Linked DNA regions of Homo sapiens: region 2 is linked to region 1. The links come from fine-mapping of genetic effects on gene expression. Tissue or cell type: aorta. Region 1 holds a variant in brackets; the other region holds the start of a gene. All regions are shown on one strand. Distances are from middle to middle.

Region 1 (2,765 bases):
CATTTGTCATAAAAACAGAAAACAATAACTTTCTATATTCTTTTCTATACCAGCAGGATGAGGTAGCCTAAGATCAATTAGTGTTTTGAAGCACTTACTCACTTAATTTTCATTTATTTTCCTCTCTTTGGTCTCCATCTATCACTGTTGCCAAAACCATTTTTACTTACAAGGCATAATTGTGTCCTAACCTTTAGTTAAGAATATTTGGTCAGTTACTATTTTTTATTTTTATTTTTCATTAAACAACTCTTTTTAGAGACAGGGTCTCACTTTGTCGCCCAGGCCAAAGTACAGTGGCGTAATCATGTCTCACTGTAGCCTCAACCTCCTAGGTTCCAGCAGCCCTCCTGCCTCAGCCTCCCAAGTAGCTGGCACTACAGGTGTGTACCACCATACCCAGCTGATTTTTAAATTTTTTTGTAGAGATATAGGTTCTTGCTGTGTTGCCCAGGTTGGTTAGCTACCATTTTTTTAAAAATGTATCTCAAATTCAGCATCAGTCTTTTTTTTAGTGAAAACACATAAACTGTTATTCAAAGTCTATAATAATTTGGTTATGGTAAACAACGAGGGTTTAGAATATATTTGTTTTACAAAATTGTTTTCTGGTTGCAGAACTTGAAACCCTGCTCCCTATAGTTGCATTAAAAAATAAAATGTCTCTTTTAAAATTCTGTCAAAGAAAGATTTGGCTTGGTTGTTTCACCTGTTAAAGATGTAGCATAAATCAGTAATAAAATTTATTTGTACTTTCCATGTTTATGTAAAGCATTTGATTTTTGACATTGGAGAGTAATGTAAATTAAATATATTTGATATTAAATATTCTAATTTTTAGAATTCTAATTTTAATTCTCAATATTTAGAATATTAAATATTCTAATTTAATAAATATTCTAATTTTTGCTACTCTCATTTTTATCAGGTATTCCTTTCATATCATGTCCCCGATACCTGATTATTTTCATTAATGCCTTGGCCTTAAATATAAGTGATAGTTTTTTCACTAACTATACTCTGTAAATATAGCATGCCCAAATGGTGGTTCCGAGGTAGGAGATCAGCAGGACTTGTTTTCTGGTCACAACCTCCTGACCAGAACAGGATCTGGTCCAAACAGAATGAAGTAAAGAAACCAGCCCAGACCAACAGATGGCAAGGAAAGGGATTTCTGGCTGCCCTCACTACTCATTAGCATAATTCACTCCCACCAGCGCCTTGACAGTTTACTAGTGCCAAGGCCAATGAC[C/T]GGGAAGTTAGCACCCCCTTCCTAGAAAGTTCTGAATAATCTACCCCCAATTTGCATTAACCCACCCCTTAATTTGCATTTAAATAACAGTGGGTATAAATATAGCTGCCAACAGCCCACAAGCCTGGCTCTGGGCGCACTGTAGGATCTGATCACAACCTACTTTTGTTTTACAGAAAGAAACATCTCTACTCACATTTATTTGTTCTGATTTTTCTTCCACCGCTGCTCTTCCTCCACAGTTTATCCCAGCCAAACCCCTTTCTGTCTCAAAGGCAGAACCTCTGTCAGGGGAGCAGTGGGTTCCCATTGCCTCCCTGGTTTGTCTTACACATCTGTGACATCTTGCCAGGTGTCCATGAAGCTGCTGAGTCTGCACTAGCCTTGTGTAGCTCCTGGCTCCGCTGTGCTTAACAGCCTGTGTGCTACACAGTTGACCTGCTAAGATGTTCTGGATGTTAAATGTGTCTTGTCAACCATATTTTAAAGCTCTGCAAGAACAAACATTCTGGACCCTCAGTAAATACATACTAATTCATAGCCCCTATTCAAACTTGTATCTAGACCAGTAACCATGAAAAGCAATCCAGTGATGAGGTTTTTTTAGAAAGAGAATGCCATGTTTTTGCATGACATGTTTGCAGTGCTCACTGGTTGATGGAGTCTTCCACCTGCTTGCTAAGTCCTTGAAATCACCAGGTATGCTGGGAACACAATGTAGTCTGCCAGATATCCATGTGGGGCTTTAGCTTATTTTAAAGTTTTAATACTAATTTATTTATTTGACTATTAACTCAGTAAAAGAACCAGGAAAAGGGATGCAGAAATGCATCAGAAGGGGTTGTAAGAATCGGGTTTTAAAAATCTATTTTAAGTAGCTTAATAGGCTACTGAGTTTTGGTTTGAGGCTTCAGTAATCTTGATTGACAAGAGGAGGCTGCCGCACAGGTAATGGATGAGAAAAGAAAGGAAAAATATCATAGGTTGGGTTTGGGGTTAGAAGAGTGGAACAAAGTGAAGATTTCTAAATCCTTGTTAAATTCATCACCTTTCAAGTAAAGACTTAAATGTGTGGCTTGACACAAAATGAAATATAGAAGGGGCTTTCCTTGATTCGAGCCTTTTTTTCAAGTTAACCTCAGGGAGTCTTTTGCTTTTATGTTAAATACCTCAGATTTATTTCAAGTTTTTAATGTTCATCTAAAGAAAAGAACCTGTTTAGAAGCAGGAGGAGAAATTAACATGTTTTAAAAGTGCCAAAGGTTGATCCTGGAAAATACCGTAGTAGTATAAGTGACTGTCAGCAAGTCTTAAAGAGCAGCTCATTTTTCCTTTTTAAAGCTTTATTGTAAGATTCTTCATGGAAGAGTAACATTACGTCTTTCAGATACAAAAATAAATTATTTTATTTGAAATTAAATTTTATTTTTGATTAGGCAATACATTCACATGGCTCAAAAAATCAACAATGTTAAGAAGTATTAATTGAGAATACTCATCTCTACCTCTGCCC
Region 2 (2,765 bases), 33 kb before region 1:
CAACAAATCATTGTTTGATCATTATTTGCCAGACATGAATCTCTACTTGTTTTCTAGGATCGCCCTAATAAAGTACACAAACTGGGAGTCTTTAAACAACAGAAACGGACTTTCTCACAGTTCTGTAGGCTGGAAGTTTGAGATCACCGTAGCAGCAGGGCCATCCTCCCTCCAAAGGGGATACAGGAGGATGCAGCCTTGCTGCTTCCAGCTTCTGGCAGCTGGTGGCAGCATCACTCCAGTCCCCGCCTCCATCTTCAGGTGGCTGTCCTCCTCCTGTATCAGCCAAATTTTCCTCTTCTTACAAGAACAGCTTCCCTAATCTAGTATGACCCATCTTAATCATAATTGCAAACTCCATATTTTCAAATAAGGTCACATGTACAGGCACCGAGGGTTAGGACTTCAGCATCTATTTTGGGAGACACAGTTCAACCCAATCTGCCCTCTGGTTCCCAAAATTGATTTCCTTCTCATGTGCAAAATACATTTTCGCACCATGTCAACATTACCAAAAGTCTTAACACTTTCCGCATCAACTCCTCTCACCATCTACATCATTTAAATAAGCTACAGAGGAGACTTACTGTGTGATTCATCGTGTGGCAAAATGTCTCTCCATCTGTGATCCTGTGAAGCGAGACGAGTTAATCCACTTCTAAAAGACCGGGGGTTGGAGGGGGAGACAGGCATAGGGTAGACAATCCATTCCAAAAGAGAGAAAGGGGAAGGAAAAAAGGGTTCACGGGTCCCAGGCAATTCTGAAACCCTGGAGGGAAAATCCCATTAGACTTCTTTCACTATTTCCCATCTAAAATTTTTAACTGAGCTATGCAAGAGTAAAAAGTTACCGGACAGAGACACCAAACAGAGAAGTGCAGGATAAATTTACCAAGAGAGTAGGTTAAAAGGGAAACTTCTCCTTCAGGCCTATGGTGGGCATTTCTTGTTTACTCAAGTACCTGCCGTCTCTCAAAGAATATCTAATGTCCACTGGAATTCGAATATGTCATGATTTTACTCGCGCCCACCCCTAGTCAACTTGGGAGGGAAGCGCAACCCTAGCCTTTTCTTACTCTGGACACAGGGGGCGGTAAACCGGGAGGGCGGCCGAGAAGGCGAGGGGGAGCGACGCTCTTGCTCTCTGGACGACAACGTGCCCACGTCCTGAGGCCGCGCCCAGACCCGGAAGCGGGGCCGTCACGTGGGGCGGCGTGGGCTGCTGCCTTGGAAACGCGGAGCGCGCGCTCCCAGCGAAAGCAGCAGGGCAGGGATCTGCGTTGGAGGAAGGGACTGCTCTGGTGCTAGAATGCTGTGCGTCGGAAGGCTGGGCGGCTTGGGAGCCAGAGCAGCAGCTCTGCCGCCCCGCCGGGCGGGCCGGGGAAGCCTCGAAGCCGGGATCCGGGCCCGAAGGGTCAGCACCAGCTGGTCTCCCGTGGGCGCCGCCTTCAATGTCAAGCCCCAGGGCAGCCGCTTGGACCTGTTCGGCGAGCGCCGGGTGAGCGGCGCAGGAGGAGCTCCCCTCAGTCCCCGAGCTAAGCCGACCCCTGCTCCGCGCGGCCAGCAACAATCAGGGCGAGATTGTTTGGGCCTGGGAGGAGGCGAGCAGCGAACCCACCTTTTACAGTGGCGTCTTGTGTGCGCTCTCGATGAGGGCAAGGTCACCTCTGCTTTGAGGGGCCGGGTTTAGTGGTCTCCTACCCAGAGTGTCGGGTCCGGGAACTGCTTCTGCATGAGCCCCTTGCTCCACGTGAATCTGAATAGTTCGTTCTGGCAGTGGCGGTGAATTCGTCCTGCCAGGACCCGCCCTCTGCATACACTCAGGCGCACCCCTGCTAAAGCCCTTTAGCTCCAGCGCTACAGTCCTGCCTTAAGAGGCCTATCCCTGTGCGTTCACAGGCGGCATCACATGGTCTTTTTGCAAGGACACGGCTGCCTGCAGTCGAGTAATGGTAATTTCATTAATACCTGAAATTCCATCATCTATTAATTAATTTATTTCAAAGCTTTGGGCTTTCTTGTTTTAAAACACAAAACTCTGTTGAGACGAGTCTCACTTCCCATAGTGCCATGGAATTGGTCACTTTGATTTCTTACCCCAGGAAGTCACTAGCCTGCGTTGTCTAGTGAAAGGTGAGAGGAAGGCAAGGTTGGAAAGGACTTACCTGATGCCTGTTCTACTTGGAGTTTGTACATTTTGTCCGTTTTAGGTTAAGGATTACTTTTATTTTTGCCTTTTAAAATTTCGTTATACTGTATTGCCTTATAAAGACAAGTCTAGGGTATTGTTGCACTGAGCTAAAGTGTGTGATTCTTGTTTTATCTCCATTATCAGTTTTGTCTATTTAAAAATTATTTTGTGTGAAATTTGCTACACCACCTTCCTTAAGGGTATGTAGTGTTGGTATTAACATAGTTGGTGTGAAGAGACCTACTTGTAGGCGCTGAGCAGAAAGACGTGAGGGGAAGCCTGATTTTGGGTGGATGAGATATAACTAATTTTAGCTTTTATTTTTCCCTTTTTGTATCATGATATTCGGCACTGATAGCAGATTTTCAAATTTTAGAATTGATTTTTGCCTTGAAAAAAAAAAAGCCTTATTCAGTTTTTTAGCATTATGGTCACTGGTAATCCGATAGTTAGAATTCCCGAGAGCAATATGGGCAGGTTGTACTGGGAAGTGGAAGTAGTCTGTGCTTGAATCAAATTAAATCAGTATAAAGATGACATTTGTTTTTGGTCCTGATTTTCCTTTGTCTCCCAC

Evidence for each region. PIP is the estimated chance that this variant, and not a neighbour inherited with it, causes the effect.
Region 2: MIPEP starts here. The variant in region 1 is fine-mapped to the expression of MIPEP in aorta (GTEx, PIP above 0.99). The same link has a PIP of 0.9 or more in cerebellum.

The regions. Positions count from the first base shown.
Region 1 is chr13:23,855,063-23,857,827 of GRCh38, reverse strand. All of the region lies in intron 10 of MIPEP (mitochondrial intermediate peptidase), which reads left to right. Among named protein-coding and RNA genes, the nearest start is that of PCOTH, 32 kb to the left of the region's middle. The variant C/T (reference allele first, on the strand shown) is at 1,253.
Region 2 is chr13:23,887,865-23,890,629 of GRCh38, reverse strand. MIPEP (mitochondrial intermediate peptidase) reads left to right here and starts at 1,230. Exons shown (of 19, transcript NM_005932.4): 1 at 1,230-1,498. The coding sequence starts at 1,310. It overlaps PCOTH (prostate and testis expressed opposite C1QTNF9B and MIPEP), which reads right to left and starts at 1,762. Exons shown (of 4, transcript NR_172510.1): 1 at 1,619-1,762; 2 at 588-630. RefSeq lists enhancers at 831-890, 950-1,450.